Linked DNA regions of Homo sapiens: region 2 is linked to region 1. Evidence: fine-mapped expression QTL. A gene starts in region 1. The other region holds a variant in brackets. All regions are shown on one strand. Distances are from middle to middle.

Region 1 (8,323 bases):
GGGTCTGGGGACTGAGGCCACTCCTCCTCCCTTTGTCTCCTGATCCCCCAGGGCTGTGGACCCCAGTCTCCCCATTGCACAGATGGAGGCACTGAGGCCTAGGCTGCAGGGGACAACCGAGAGCCACCCCTCAGCCCCTTCCTCCCCGGGGATGCTGAGGTCATGGGGAGTTGGTTAGTGCTCTTTGCAGGCCGTAAGTGCCCCCGCATCTTCCTCTCAGCCATCCCTCCCTCCAGCAAAGAGAAGCGCTGCCTCTCCAGAACACTGAGCCCTCACCTGTTCCCAAAGAAAGTTTTGAGCAGGTCCATATTTAGATTTTTAAAAATTTTATTTTTAAAAACTTTTCATTGTAAATAACTTTCATGAAAAAGGTTAAATTGCCCCACGGGGCAGGAGGGTGGATGTGGGACGCAGCCCAGGGAGTCCGGGTGGAGCAAGGCACGCCCCACGCCCCCGAGGAGTGCAGGCAGGGGCGTGGGGTACCCCGCTTCTTGGTCCCAGTAGTTCCAGCAAGCTCGGCATCCCTCCCAGTTAAGCCTCAGCTACAGCTACACTCACTACATTAGTCTGTCTGTCCTGCCCCATACAGCTTGGCTGCCCCGGCCCCCAAACCACCAAACCCAAACTTCCAGCTGCTCTCAGCCTCAAGTCGGGCTTAAAGATTAGGGATTTACGTCCCCTCCCCGCCCCCTAGGGATGGGGCCAGGCAAAGACCCCAGAGGCCTTAGAGAGGATCTCCTTGCCCCACCCTGTGCCACCACCTCATTTTGGTCTCCTCTCTCTGCCCCCTCCCCCAGTCCATCTTCTGCCCTGCTCCGCCCCATCCACAGCCTGCCCCGGCCCCAGGGAGGCTCTGCCAGGAGAAGCCTCCAGGGGGTTAATTTGCTGTCATCTAATTAGCATTTGTTGTACCTGGGGACTCTCTCTGGATAGAGACCTGGGGAAGCAGGGGGGAAGCGGAGGTGCTCTGGGAGGGCCCAGTTCTGTTCCTCCCCAGCCTGACCCGGGCTCCTCCAGGCCTCGGCTCTCATGGTGCAGGGTCCTTTAGCCGGTTTCTGGGGCTGGGAAGACGCGGAGCAATGAAACACTGTGTGTACAAGGTGGGGCTGGGGAGAGGAGGCAGCGATTCTGGTCCTGGGCCCTCGTTTTCAGCCTCCTGGGCTTGAATCTGATGGCAGCTGGGGCTGGTGGCCATGTGGCCTCTGGGGCAAGCCTTGGAGCCCTGGCCCAGCCCCTGCCTAGGTGGTGGGGTGTCTGTGGACCTGTGTTGGGGGGCAGTTCTGGACCCTGACTTGGGCACTGTCCAGAGGTGGGGCAGGGCCTGGCCTCTTACAAGAAGGCCCCCACGCTGGCCCAGTCCTGCAGGTCGGAGGCCAGGGTGGCATCCCCAGCCTCAAAGAGGGGCTCCGGGGGCAGGCAGCCACTGCCGCTCTCGTCCCAGGGGTGCTGCAGGAAGGATGTGGCCAGGAAGGTCTCATCGAAGTCCAGGCTGTCGGCAGCCTGCTCCACCGAAGGCCCCCAGGTGGCAGGGCAGTCGATGTGGCGGCCGTGGATGGTGAGGTCCACGTCCACGTGTGAGGCGGGGCTCAGAGGCGGGCTCAGCTCCAGGGCCTCCAGTGCACCCAGCTCCCCGCCCAGAGTGCCGGCGTCGAAGATGGCCTCCCAGTCAAAGTTGCCTTTGAGGGGTTCCAGCTCACCCTGCTCCTCCGGGGTGGGCAGCAGGGTGCTGGGGGGCCGCGGGACCTTGGCCACCCGCTTGGGCAGCGGCTGTTTGCGCTTATGCCCCAGCCTGCCCTCGCCTGCACCCCAGCCCGCCTCCCCGGTGGCCTCCTCGAACTCCCGCAGCAGCTGCTGGGCCTCGGTATTCACCGTCAGCGGCCCGGCCCGGGGGACAGCGCTGGGCTCCTGCGCGGCCTGGCGGGCAAAGGCTGGGTGGATGTGGACAGGGGGCAGTCGCCGCTTCTTGAAAGCGCCGCTCAGTAGCCGCTCCGCGTACTGGGGGTCAATGCGCCAGAAGCCCCCCTTGCCTGGTTCGTCCTTCTCCCGAGGCACTTTGATGAAGCACTTGTTCAGAGACAGGTTGTGGCGGATTGAATTCTGGGTGCAGGGAGAGAGCAAGAGAGAGAGGAACCGCTAGGTCAGTGGGGACGGGGAGATGAAATGGCACCTGGCGCTGCTGCGCACCCCCCATCTTTTCTCTGGCAGGGGAGAGGAGGGGGGGACAGACACACTGGTCTGCCCAGGCGGCTGCAGCTCTGGGACACCAGCCACAGGGCACTGGGAGCCCGGAGTGCTGTCGGAGGCTTTTGTTCCCTGTTGCCGGGATATCTGCCTGCTCAGTCATCCGAGCTCTGAGCCGCAGGGTGGCTCTCGGTGCCACCCCCGTCGCCTGCCCTCCCTCCCTCACCCTGCCGCTGACAGCCTCTGGCCAAAGCCCTCGGCTCCCCCAGGGCCTGGACCACCGTCTCCCTTTGCCTGGGCCTGGCTGGCCCTCTCTGTGAGTGAGTGGGTCCAGGGAGGGGGCTGGGCAGCCGAGAGTGGAGAGGAAGGGGGAGAGAGAGAGAGAGCGCGCAGGGATGAGAGGTGGGGGATCTGATGACTTTCCTTGTTTGTTGAGCCGGCTGCTGGCCTGGGCCTTCACCCCCCACGGCCCCCTCCCCCCACTCCAGGCTCAGTTGATTATTACCCAGCCAAGAGCTAAGAGCATAGCACTCATTCCTGGGGCCCGTTTCTCGAAGCGCAGCTGCACAGGCTTAGGGTAGGGTGGGGCTGAGGGTCTCTGCTTTTTCGGTGCAGCTGCAAATGACCCTGCTCTAGGGTCAGGGGCATTGGAAATGGCTTGGGACTGCGGTCCTGTGGCCTGCCCGCTTTGGGTGCTTCAGGGAAGAGTCTGGGCGTCCTTGGGGGGCCCCTGACTCCAACTAGCCCTTGATGGTGATGGCTGAAGACTCTTAGGGCACTGCCTACCCAGCCTCAAATCCACCATCCTCCTGCCTTGTCCATTCTTAGGTGCTTAATCTTGTCCAAAGCCTGCTGGGGGACAGGGGTCCTGGGCTGGGACGGCAGGGCAGGTGGGTGGATAATGCCCGGCAGCAAGGCTGGGATGTTTACATGGTGGCCTGGGCCCCTTGGCTGCTCAGTGCCTGGTTCCAGAGACGTGGAACACGAAGTGAGTGTGGTAGGCAGAGCCCCAGTGGAAGGCACCTGGCTCAGGTAATTGTCCCCCCAGGGAGGTTGGCTGACAGCGGGGGTTGGAGGCAGGAAACTGAGCAGAGGTTGAGGTGGGGGGCTGGGACAGCAGCTTTAGGAAGGCCCCTTACCCCCTCCACCCTCCATTGGGACACACCTGGCCCTCACATGCTAAGGCACCCCTTCCATTCCACCCTCCCCAAGCCAACTGCAAAAGGGCAGGACGTAGAGCCTGGCAGGGAGGCCACGTTCCAGTTTCCGTTTCTGACTCCCGGCCCCGACAAACCATCCCGGGGCAGGGCAGTGTCTAGGAATTCTAGGACTTGGGACAAGAATGCGCCTTCAGTTCATCGCTCTCCCCAAGGAGATTCTGTCCACGCAGAGTCTAGCCCTGGTCTTTGGCCTGGGCCTGCTGGATGAATGGCAGGTTATTTCCCCTTGAATCTCAGCCTCTGCACCCCTAAAGCCCTCCACCTCTGGACATTCTCCCTTCTCTCTCTCTCTCTCTCTGGAAGTCAAAGGAGGGGCAGTTGCAAGAACTGGGCTCCTTTGCAGGGCTCCCTTCTGGGGCGCTGGCCGCACCGCAGAGCCTACTTGGCCTGCAGATTTGGGATATGAATCCAGTGCAGCGTGGGGAGCGAGGAGGGAATGGGGAGGGAGCGGCCGCCGCCCGTGCCTCCTCTACCTGCCAGGTGGGATCTGCGTGGCGGAAGTAGCAGAAGTTGTCCGTGATCCACTTGTAGATGGCCGACAGGGTGATCTTGGTGGCCTTGCTGGCCTGCATGGCCATGCAGATGAGCGTGGCATACGAGTAGGGAGGCTTCACGTGCGGATTGGTGGCGTAGTCCACGTCGTCGGGGGGTGGGGCCTGCAGCCCCGGGGGCGCGCTCCGCGACGTGCACGACGACGTGGGCTTGCCCGGCGTGTGTGGCTGCCCCAGGCAGGCGGGGTCGGCCGCCAGGGGGGACCCGGGCGCCGCTGAACCTGGCACCTGGTGGTAGCCGTGGGGGTCGGTGCCCCCCGGGGGCAGGGCGGGGGCCTTGGCGTTGAGAATGGAGAATTCCTGCAGCCACTGCAGGCTGGTCAGGCTGTCATCCAGGGCGTCGGGCTCCTCCAGGCCGCCCTCCGGCCCGGCCTCCTCCGCCGGCCCGGCTCCCGAGAGGCGCAGCCAGCTCTCCGCCATGTCTGCGGGGACTCTCCGAGGGGGCGGTCAGCATCCACGGGCTGAGCCGGGGGTGGCCCGCCGCGCTCTCTGGCCCGCTGAGTCCCGCAGCTCCCGTTACACGGCCTCCCGGACGCGCGCTTCCATCTCGCGACCCCGGGGGCGCCTCCTCCGAATAAGTATGTGGTGCCTGCGAGGACCACGGTGGGAGCTGAGCACTACCCCACCCCCGAGGGGACAGTGTGTGTACGGGGACGCCCTCTCTAACATCATCCCCGCAGCTGGGGAGGATCTTTTAGTGCCGAGGTATGGGAAACAGAAGCAAGGCCCTGGGGTCCCACCCCCATCAGATCTGCCTCCCTCTTCCTTTCCTCTTCGAGGTTTTATTAGCCAAATGAAGAGGGTAGGGGCATCCGAGGCTATCCTTTTCTCCCGAAGAGCAGGAAATCAGGACCCCCTTCCTCCTCGCAACAAATGGAAGTGGGGCGAGAAGTTTGGGAGGGCGGTACGACGGGGCGGGGGCGGTGGAGGTCCTCTGATCCTTGAAAAGGAATATTATGATAGGGGATCATTGGGAAGGAAGGGGACGGAACAGTAACGGGGGGCAGGAGGCGAGTTTCCCCCAGACTTCTCCGATGTCAGTCCCTGGGCCCACCACTTCCGTTAAGGACGAATGAGAGAGCGGGTTGGTACCGTTGCCCACCCTTCCCCCTGGCCTGCAGCCCTCCCCATCCCTTACCTGGCTCAGAGCGCAGCCCGGGCCAGAGGAAGGTTCTGGAAGAAGTTGCTCCCACCCCCTGCGGCTCTCTGCCCCCAGCTCGGGGGCCCTGCCAGCGCCTCTTGCCGCCCCCCCGCCCGACGGCGCTTCTCTGAGCTACCGCGGCCCCGGGACCGGCATTAAGTAGCCGCTCCAAAGGCTTCTCCTGCTGCCATGGCGACGCTCCGCCCCCATAAACAGCTTCCGCCTCTGCCATTGGCCAGCACGTCTCCAAGGAGACCGCGGGCACTTGCCACTCTCCCTGGCGGCAACTCTCTTCGAACTCCCTCCTTCTGCCGCCCTCTCCCGCGCCACCCAACCCCCTACCCGCCGCTAAGTCCCGGCTCGGCTCATTCCCGCCCGAGGGCCCCGCGCTGGGGTCGGAGAAGCGCGCGGCCTGCGGCACCGGGAACCGCTATGGATCCGTTCGTTCTGGGGAACCAAGACTCTCGCCCCCACCCCCTTCCTGTCCCGTACGCTTTGAGGCGTCGACTGCTCCTGGGACGGAGCCTGGGGTTGGGGGGCTAAGGCTGGGAGCGGGCTCAGGCTCGGGAACCGTATCCTTGAGGTTTTCTTTCCTCTCCGCTACGAGTGGCACTTTCTCATGTTTCTGCAGCCTTTCCCTCTCCCCCGACTCTTAGGGTCTTTCTCTGGTGTCCCAGGCAGGTCTGACTTTCCGATGCCACCTGCCGCTTACATCCACAGAGGCGGCAGACACACCAAGGGGGTAGGGTAATCCAGTGTGTCCCAGTAAGCAGCTCCTTCCCCACCCGTATCCTCGAGGTTCCAGGAAGCTGACATTCCAGAGGCTTCTGCAGAAGCGCACTCACTCCTCTGGAGACAGCTGATGAAGCAGAGCCCGTGGGTAAAACTCTGAAGTCATGGACTTGTCAAATTCTCCTAGCGGGGTCATTTGCCCAATTAATTTCACCAACCTTTAAGTCACAGGGATTAAGAGTAGAGGGACTCTGGGGACTGTGTCCCTTCCTCCTCCCTTCCCCTGGCCTCCCTCCTGTCACCAGCTTTCCTGCTCTTTAATTATTGAGGAGCTGCAGGGTTGGACGTTCTCCGGTTTAAGGCGGCTGCAGAGGCAGTGGTGGGGGCTGGGTTGATTACCCCGCCTCTGCCCAGGAGCTGGAGAGCCGGGGTCGGGGAGGCTGGTGCCCAGACCATGAAGAAGGCCCGGCTATGGCGCATCACTCCCCCGCCAACATGCCTTTCCCTAGCCCTTGCCTCTCCCACTCCTCCAACTCCAGATCCTCTTGAGTAAAAGTATTAAAGAGTGCTGGCGAAAGTCAGACAGAAACTTTCACAGATAAGCTCACTTTGCAGTTAGCTCTCCTTCCCTTGTAAACAGTTTTATTCATTTTTAAGAATCATGCAGCAATCCATAAATATTGCATTCTTGATGTCCCCACTGTAGTGTGACCACAAGTGTACTCCAGGGAGAGGGGTACACAGATGGCACAAGCAGTATACACATGCACACACCAGGTGTGCAGACCAAAGCAAAGTGAGCGACCAGCGTGCTAAACTCCAGGTGGGCAGGACCCCAACTCCCAGGTGAGGTGGGCAGGACCCTAACTCCCAGGCCAGCCGGCTTAGAGTGTGGTGGTCTGTGCCCAGGAGATGCCTCAGCGGGGGTAGAAACTCTGGTGGGATGGAGCTGGGCAGAAGGAAAAAAGGGCTCTGTGAGGAAGCCGGGATCACACCACCTGAAGGCAATAGGGAGAGCACAGGCCTAGTGCAGCAGGAAGGAGCCCTGGGTCTCCATAGTTAGGCTGTGCCCTGTGGGAGAAGCCAGGCCCCACCTCTTCTCTTTGGGTGAACTGTTGACGTGACTATGTGACTGTCTCCAGATGAAGGACTGGGGCAAAAGGGTTGGCCACTGACCTGTCCTCATCAGGCTGACTGAGGACCAGCTCCTTGGATGGAGTATTTCTGTGGGCCAGAGAGCTAAATGACAGCCAAGAGAAGGCAGGGGGAGGGAGGAAGAGGAGAAATAGTAACTGAGAAACAAGTAAAGGACATTTCTAACCTAGGTATGCCTTGGACATGGGACTGAGGCCTTGAGGAATCTTTCCGTGCTTCTCCCTAGGAGAGGACTAAGCACCTGCTGCGAGGAAGGACAGGGATCCTCAGGAAGGGGGTCCTGGCCACTGTGGCTACTGTTTACCTGAATCTCCTTCATCTCAGCTCCTTCCTCCCTCCTCCCAGGTAACACCACACTGTGAATACTACCTGCAGGGGACAGGACAGGAGGTGGTCTGTGTGCCACCACCCCAGGGTAAGGGAAGCTCCCTGTCACCTGCTGCTTCTGGGCTCATATTTCAGGGAAATCAGGAAGTGGGGTTATTGCTCAGCTTATGCATCTTAACTATGAAAGGGGCGGGAAGAATGTAGGGGGAAGGAAGGAAAGAACATTAGGTGGGGCCTGAAATGGTAAAGTCTACTGCAGTTTTTCAGAGAGGGTTGGACGACAGGCCCCCCTCTCCATCAGGGCAGGATGTGAGCCACAACCACTAGGCAGTGAGACAGTCACTGCACTCCTGGCCTCTGCAGCCACACAGAAACGAAGGACCCCCTGGGCACCAGGCTCTTTTTGAGGCTGCCTTGGAAACAGCCTTGAATTTTTTTTTTTTTGTTTGAGACAGAGTTTCGATCTTTTCAATCTTGTAGCCCAGGCTGGAGTGCAGTGGCACGATCTTGGCTCACCGCAACCTCCACCTCCTGAGTTCAAGCGATTCTCCTGCCTCAGCCTCCCGAGTAGCTGGGGAGGGCCCTTGAAGTGAAGGCCCTGAGCCCTGATTCCAACCTCTGCTCCCAGCACACTGCTGCTGGCCACATGCTGCTGCCTGAACTTAGCTCAAGGCTCTCCATCACTTCCTTTGGGGACCTGGGCACCAAACTGAGAATCACTGGTCCACATTTCTCTCAACCATTAACAAAAGGGGGTAGAGATGGGGGCAACAGGGACAAGAATGCCACCTCCCAATTGAGTGAGGATGAATTATGGTAATATACGACCACTCCTCACCCAGTGCTTGGCACACAGAGGTGGTCAACACATGTGTTTCTTGAAATGTCACCTTAGGATGGAGTTGCAGGCCTCCCTGAATGCACCTGATCAGGAGAAATGCTCCTTAAGGGAAATCATCTTAACTGGGGGATTCTCAGATTCAAGGGCTCCTTCTTTTTTTTTTTTTTTCTCTGTC
Region 2 (8,323 bases), 410 kb after region 1:
TCACACACACAGATACACATAAACATACATACACACAGAGAGACATACACATACACAAATACACACAGTATCATATGCAGAGGCAGAAGCCATTTGAACTAAGCATTAAAATAAATTAATGTGTTCATTTGGTCATTTATTTAACAAGCGTGTCCTGGGAACCTGCAATGTACAAACCCTGTATCAGGTGTCAGGAGTGACACTCGAGGAGAGACAGACCCTGCCCTGCTGGTTGGTCCTATAGGAAGGCCCCAGCCTCGGTGGCCTAGTTCTGCCAGCCCAACCCTGCCTGTCCCTGTGACCTTTAGTTCTCTGGACCTCGGTTTCCTCATTTGATAAACATTTGTCAAGCCCAGGTGGGCTGGAGTGAGGACGCAGAGGACTAATGATCTCCTCAGGAAAAGAACAGTTTAGTAAAATGAAGGGGATGGACCAGAAGCTCTCTGGGGGCCCCACCGACTTTCCCAATCGAAAGCAACTGTAATGAACTGTGTCTGGAGTGCTGTGTGCCAGGCACTGTGGATCCAGAAACGGATTAAGACCTTCTGCCACAAACAACCAGAAAACTGGGCAAGATATAAGCAGCAGACACTTGACAACAGGCAGCACACAGGACAGTGACCCCATGACTGCCTCAGCTTCTGCCTGGAGACAGTTCCCTGACTGTGCCTTGGGGAGGGGAAACCCAAGCGGACCACAGTGGCTTTGCTAAGGTGAGGAGGAGACAGAATCAGAGGTCAAGACAGTGTGAGATTCATAAGGATATACACACAGATCAATGGAATCCAAAAACAGATGCAGAAAGGCAATCCAATGGAGAAAGAAAGGTCCTTTCAACAGGATACAAAAAGCACTAACCAGAAAAGAAAAATCAATACACTGGACTTTATCAAAATTAAACCTCTGCTCTTGGAAAGACTAGGAGTAAATATTTGCCAAACAAAAATCTGAGAAAGGACTTGTATCCGGAATACATAAAGAACTTTTACAATTCGATAATAAGATGGCCCAATAAAAAAGTGGGGAAAGATTTTAATAGACACTACAACAAAAAATAAACATACAGCTAAAATACATAGAAAGTTGTTCGACATGCGGCTGGGCGCGGTGGCTCACGCCTGTAATACCAGCACTTTGGGAAAGAAGAAAGATACTCCACATGCAAATCAAAAGCCCAATGACATACCACTACATGCCTACCAGAGTGGTTACAGCTGAAGGCCGACCATAGTAAGTACTGTCCAAGATGTCACCCTGTCATACACGGCTGGGGACTGGTGAAGTGTTACAACCACTTGGGAAACCAGCATGGTGGTTCCTTATAAAGTTATCCCAGAGGAATGAAAACTTACATCCACAAAAAAGACTGCAAAGATGTTCATGGCAGCTTTATTACTAACAGCTCCAAACTGGAAACAACCCAAATATTCCTCGACGTGGGAACAGATAAACACACTGAGATATATAAAGATAGAATAATACTCAGCAATGAAAAGGAAATGAACTGCTGATGCCGACGACATGGGTAAATTGAGAGAAGCCAGACACAAAAGAGCCCCTACTGTGTGATGATGACATGTACACGGAATTCTAGAACAGGCAGAACCGACTGATAGTGACAGAAGGCATCAGTGGTTGACTGGGGCCGGGGTTAGATATTGTGGGGGTTGACTGCAAGGGTAAGAAGGTTTTTGTTTTTTTGTTTGTTTTTTTTTCTTTTTTTTGAGATGGAGTCTCACTTTGTCACCCAGGCTGGAGTGCAGTGGCATGATCTTGGCTCACTGCAACCTCCACCTCCTGAGTTCAAGCAATTCTCCTGCCTCAGCCTCCTGAGTAGTAGGGACTACCAGCTTACACTACCACGCCCAGCTGATGTTTGTATTTTTAGTAGAGACGGGGTTTCATCATATTGGCCAGGCTGGTCTTGAACTCCTGACCTCAAGTGATCCACCCGCCTCGGCCTCCCAAAGTGGTGGGATTACAGGTGTGAGCCACCGTGCCCAGCCTAGAAGGTTCTTTTTTTTTTTTTGAGATGGAGTTTTGCTCTCATCACCTAGGCTGGAGTGCAATGGTGCGATCTCGGCTCATTGCAACCTCGCCTCCCAGGTTCAAGTGATTCTCCTGCCTCAGCCTCCTGAGTAGCTGGGATTACAGATGCCCACCACCACGCCCAGCTAATTTTTTGTATTTTTAGTAGAGACGGGGTTTCGCCACGTTGGCCAGGCTGGTCTCAAACTCCTGACCTCAGGTGATCCACCGGCCTCAGCCTCCCAAAGTGCTGGGATTACAGGCATGAGCCACCGCACCCGCCTAAGAAGGTGCTTTTGAGGTGACAACAGTGTTCTAAATCTTAACTGGGATTGTGGTTACATGGGTCTATACACTTATTGGACTACTGAACCATACATTGTAAATGGTTATACTGTATTGTATGTAAGTTACACGAGAATAAAGATGATTTAGAGAGTTAGAAACAAAACAAGAATGAAGAATGATGCTTGTTTTGCTCACCATCTAGCAGAAAAGCCAGACATACAAATAATCATCAAACAGTGGGATGAGTGTTCAAAGTATGTTGAAATAACACGAACTCCCATTTATCAAGTGCTTACCTTGCGCCAGGCGCTGTGCTAAGTGCCCCGAAGCACTGATTTAACGAAGTCCCGTGATGTTTGGATGATCCTCCTCCTCCTCCTCATTTTACAGATGAGAAAATAAGACTCAGAGAGAAGTGAGGTGACCTTTGCCAAGGTTACTCAGCTAGAATCAGCAGAGCTGGGACTTTCCTCCAAGTCCTCCTGGGTTGCAGACAATGTGCTAATCCACCTGCCACCAGGAAGGTGCCACGATGAAACAGCTCGGGAATTGTTGCAGCGTCTCAGTCAAAACTTCGCAGGAAGTATTTAAGTACAAGCTGGAATTTGCAGAGCAGAGAAGAGAATGCAGTGAAGGGACTTTCAAGGCAACAGGAACAAACACCACCACAAGCAAAGGTTATGCAACAGCTGTGAGAAGGCAAGGGTTTCTGGGCATGGAGAGACATGCCCAGGAAATAACAGAAGAGATCCATGGAGCATTATATCGTCTTCAAATTCATTTATTTTTATTTTTAAAAAATCAATTTTTGAGTAATACTCTAGAGGCAGTGGCTCTGCCAAGCAGGGAAGTCAAATGCATCGCTTTTTTTCCTGTACACTGTTGGCAAGCACAGATAATCCACAACTCCAACGCCATCTATTCTCAATGCGTAGGGTCTGTGTTATATTTCTCCTCTTCCAGAAAGTTAAAGCTCGGTGAAACTTAAAGCAGTGATCCCAGGTTTTTAAATTTTTATATTTTTACTTTTCTTCCATCTGCCTGGTCATCTGCATGATCCCAGCTTTCTGAACAGGATTTGTGACACTGTTTCACGGTCCTAAGAACTCTCAGGAAAAAATCCTCTATATTTTCATGACAGGTTTTCTAGGTGGGTGAATTAAAGTCTCTGGAGTTAAGCAAAAACGGTCCACTGTCATAGCGTAATTTTTTTAGGAAACATGGCATGGTGGCTGAGACCATGGGTTTTTAGGCTGGATTGTTTGAGTTCAGATCGCAGTGCCTTCACTTATGAGTTCCTTTAACCTTTCTGCACCTTGACTTCCTCAGCTGTGAAATGGGAAGGTGGGGGGGTGGGGGATAATGACAGGGCTGTCATGAGAATCAGATGAGACAGTGAATAAAAGGTGCTTCCAGAGTACCTGCCACAGAGTAAACACTTCATATACACATAGCTGTTATGATTTCCGGAAGGAGGCTTGCACACATGAGCTCATTTTCTGTATTCTGCCATGATCCATTCTTCTGGGAAGAATTATTTTTAAAAGATATCATTTAGGATGATTTGACTGAAACAGAACACCCAACTTAAAATGACTTAATAAGATTTCTTTTTAAAATCTCACTTTTTATTTATTTATTTTTTTTGAGATGGAGTCTCGCTCTGTCGCCCAGGCTGGAGTGCAGTGGTACGATCTCCACTCACTGCAAGCTCTGCCTCCCGGGTTCAAGCCATTCTCCTGCCTCAGCCTCCTGAGTAGCTGGGACTACAGGCACCCGCCACCACGCCTGGCTAATTTTTTTTTTTGTATTTTTAGTAGAGATGGGGTTTCACTGTGTTAGCCAGGATGGTCTCAATCTCCTGACCTCGTGATCCACCCTCCTCGGCCTCCCAAAGTGCTGGGATTACAGGCGTGAGCCACTGCACCCAGCCTAAAATCTCACATTTTGTAATTCACTCAAACTGAGATGCCATTGCTTGTAAGACACATCCTGCATTTTAGAATATGAAAATGCGACCAGCTGTGATGGCTCATGCTTGTGATTCCAGCACTTTGGGAGGCTGAAGTGGGTGGGTTACCTGAGGTCAGGAGTTCGAGACCAGCCTGGCCAGAATGGTGAAACTCTGTCTCTACCAAAAATACAAAAATTAGCTGGGTGTGATGGTGCACACCTGTAATCCCAGCTACTTGGGAGGCTGAGGCAGGAGAATCACATGAATCCAGGAGGTAGAGGTTGCAGTGAGCTGAGATCATGCCACTGCATTCCAGCCTGGGCGACAAGAGCAAAGCTCTGTCTCAAAAAAAAAAAAAAAAA[AT/A]ATATATATATATATAAAAATATATATATATAAAACATGTATATGTGTATATATATGTATACATGTATACATATATATGTGTGTGTATATATATATGAAATGTATAAATGTGTCTCTGAATCAAAACGAGGTCTGAAGTTCAGGGGTGTTGGGACTGGCGGTTTCTGCGGGTCAGCAGCATCACTGAGGACTCATGTTCTTTCTTCTCTCTACTCTGCCATCGCAGTCCTTCAGCTCCTACTTAATGGAAGCCTCGCAGATGCAAGATGGCTCCAGCAGGCCCAGCATCACTTCTTCTCAGTGTCCCAAAGCCAGAAGAGAGGCTGTTGTTTTTAAAAGCAGGAAAACTTTCCTAAACTTGGCCAGAATTGCATCACAGACCCTTTCCTAAAACAATTTCCAGCAAAGGGAATAGACTTACCATGTCTGGTACAGATGAATCAAGGTTTGCCCCTGGGGGCTGGGGAGGGGCTTGTCCCGCTGAAGCAGACTCTTGCCCAGCAGCTGAACGAAGCCTAGGTTCACCAGACGGAGGAAGAGACTGGCCACTAACAGTGCCTGACACACAGATGTGCTTCCTGTGATATCGCTGCTGCCACCGTTCCAAATGTAAGCAGTTGGCTGTCTGGGATACTACCTACCTTCTTTTGTGTTCTTATTAATAAAATTAAAGATTGCTTTCTGGGTAGAGAAATTAACCTCAATATTCTAAAGACTGTTTTATTTTTATGTATTTATTTTTTTGAGACAAGGTCTTGCTCTGTCATCCAGGCTGGAGGGCAGTGATGAAGTCATGGCTCACTGCACAGCCTCAATCTCACGGGCCCCAGCAATCCTCCCACCTCAGCCTCCCATCCAGCTGGGACCACAGGCATGTGCCACCACACCTGGCTGTTTCTCATTTTTTATTGGTAGAGACGGGGGTCTCCCTATGTTGCTCAGGCTGGTCTTGAACTCCTGGGCTCAAGTGATCCTCCTGCCTTGGCCAACCAAAGTGTTGGGATTATAGGCATGAGCCACTGCGACCAGCCCAAAGACTGTTTTCTATTACTGTGGGTTTCAGATACCATGTCTTAAACGCTGTCAGTGACCACCCCAATACAGCAGGCCAGCTGACTGGATTTTCCCTTTGTACTCAGAGCCTGGGTCCCTGAAAAGCGCTGGGGACTTTTGCTTTCCTGTTTGTAAAGAGTCACTAGACTGTGACTCTTTCCATGTCAATAAATAGAGGTCTGCACTAGCCTGGTATAAAGGCTGTATAATAATTCCACGGTAGGTAAAACTCAAATGTCCTAGCTCTCACCAGCAATGAGTGCAAATGAGATCACAGTAACATCCACATTTCAGTCTCAACAGCTCTGAGCCCTTGCCGGCTCATTCAGGAATTCTGATGCATTCTCTGAAGTCCCCCTAGTTATTTCTGGGTTGGCTGCACAGTGTACTTTACATGTGCTCGGCACAAGGCCTCTCATTGTATTTCGCTCCAGCCTCTTGGCCACTGCCCAGCTGCCCTGGCATCCCCATCTGCCATGAACCTGCTGTTGGGGAAGCGATGTCCAGTCAGGTGTGAAAGCAACTTGGTGGCCTGCGGCAGAGTGAAGAGCTGTAAAGAATGGCCCTCACTATACACTGGGTGGCATCCAGGCCCAATACAGCCCTGCTAGAGCCCAGAGCCTCCATCTTCCACACATCAGCTCTGCAGCCTCCCATCCTCACTCTTCCTGCCACGAAGTGGCTCAAATGGCAGAGCAGGTGCCCATTGTTCCCCCTTTCAACCTCATTTCTGATTTTGTCCCCAACCACCCCTACAAACACATGAAAATCTTCTTCCTTCTCCCTTCCTCCCCGAAAACAAAAGTCCTTATACATAAGGTCACCTTATTCATTAGCGGTAAAAGCATGGATTCTACAGGCTGGGAGCAAACCCTGACCCTGCCAGTTACTGGTTATGTGAATTTGGGCAAGTTACCGAATTTCCCAGTGCTTCTGTTTCCTTATCCGTAAAATGGGGACAGTGATAGTGTTACCGGAGAGGAGTCCTGATCCAGACCCCAAAAGAGGGTTCTTGGATCTTGAGCAAGAAGGAATTTGGGATGTCTATAGACTAAAGTGAAAGCAAGTTTATTAGAAAAGTAAAGGAATAAAAGAATGGCTACTTGGCCAGGCATGGTGGCTCAAGCCTATAATCCTAGCACTTTGGGAGGCTGAGGCAGGCAGATCACTTGAGGTCAGGAGTTCGAGACCAGCCTGGCCAACATGGTGAAACCCTGTTGCTACTAAAAATACAAAAATTAGCCGGGCGTGGTGGCGTGCGCCTGTAATCCAGCTACTCGGGAGGCTGAAGCAGGAGAATTGCTTGAACCCAGGAGGTGGAGGCTGCAGTGAGCCGAGACAGCAGCACCACTGCAGCCTGGGTGACAGAGCGAGACTCTGTCTCAAAAAAAAAAAAAAAAAAAAGGCTACTCCACAGAGCAGCCCTGAGGGCTGCTGGTTGCCCATTTTTATGGTTATTTCTTGATTATATCCTAAACAAGGGGTGGATTATTTACGCCTCCCATTTTTAGACCACATAGGGTAACTTCCTGATGTTGCCATGGCATTTGTAAACTGTCATGGCGCTGGTGGGAGTGTAGCAGTGAGGACGACCAGAGGTCACTCTCATCGCCATCTTGGTTTTGGTTTTGGTGGGCTTATTTACTGCAAACTGTTTTATCAGCAAGGTCTTTATGGCCTGTATCTTGTGCCGACCTCCTGTCTCATCCTGTGACTTAGAATGCCTTAACCGTCCGGGAATGCAGCCCAGTAGGTTTCAGCCTCGTTTCACCCAGCTCCTATTCAAGATGGAGTTTTCTGGTTCCAATGCCTCTGACAGTAGTACTTCATCGCATTGTGAGGATTAAACGAGTTCATACATGTACAGAAACCAGTATAGGGAATGGCACCTGGTAAGTGCTATGAAGTATTAGCTATCATTACTATCTTGTCTACAGTAGGTCACCAGCCCGCTAGCAGCTTTTGGGAAATTCCACACTTAGAATTCCCACTGTAAGTCTCAAATGAAAGGAACTATGTTTGCAGGGATAGAACACATTCTTCCTTTCAGTATTACACAAAATAACGTGTCTTCAAGGGTAAGGTAGAGAAACCTAATGGCCAGAATTACTGCTGAATGAATTAATGATTATTTGCTGAAGACTTACTGTGAGCATAGCAGGTAAATACCAAACCCTGCACTGTTAAGAAATTAAAAAGAAAAAAATAAAAATAAAAAGAGGCTGGGCGTGGTGGCTCACGCCTGTAATCCCAGCACTTTGGGAGGCTGAGACGGGTGGATCACCTGAGGTCAGGAGTTTGAGAACAGCCTAACATGGAGAAACCCCATCTCTACTAAAAATACAAAATTAGCTGGGCGTGGTGGCGCATGCCTGTAATCCCAGCTACTCAGGAGGCTGAGGCAGGAGAATCACTTGAGCTTGGGAGGCGGAGGTTGCCGTGAGCCGAGATCGTGCCATTGCATTCCAGCCTGGGCAACAAGAGCAAAAGTCCATCTCAAAAAAAAAAAAAAAAAAAAATAATAATAATAATAAAAAGAGACTTCTGCTCTTGAAGAGCTTACAATCAAATGAAAGGAGGTAAACATAAGCAAATGTGGTAATTTGAAGATAAGTATCTGCAACATATTACCATCTG

The links. PIP is the estimated chance that this variant, and not a neighbour inherited with it, causes the effect.
Region 2: its variant is fine-mapped to the expression of RNF157-AS1 in whole blood (INTERVAL, PIP above 0.99).

The regions. Positions count from the first base shown.
Region 1 is chr17:76,136,024-76,144,346 of GRCh38, forward strand. RNF157-AS1 (RNF157 antisense RNA 1) reads left to right here and starts at 4,533. Exons shown (of 8, transcript NR_040017.1): 1 at 4,533-4,657; 2 at 7,207-7,325. It overlaps FOXJ1 (forkhead box J1), which reads right to left and starts at 5,222. Exons shown (of 3, transcript NM_001454.4): 1 at 5,091-5,222; 2 at 3,875-4,541; 3 at 310-2,097. The coding sequence starts at 4,372. The coding sequence ends at 1,330. It overlaps RNF157 (ring finger protein 157), which reads right to left. Exons shown (of 19, transcript NM_052916.3): 19 at 6,451-8,323. RefSeq lists enhancers at 1,005-1,666, 1,667-2,326, 2,989-3,648 and silencers at 4,060-4,249, 4,310-4,379, 5,058-5,217.
Region 2 is chr17:76,548,250-76,556,572 of GRCh38, forward strand. It overlaps a transcript of CYGB not described here and a transcript of PRCD not described here. Among named protein-coding and RNA genes, the nearest start is that of SNHG16, 5.4 kb to the right of the region's middle. The variant AT/A (reference allele first, on the strand shown) is at 4,633.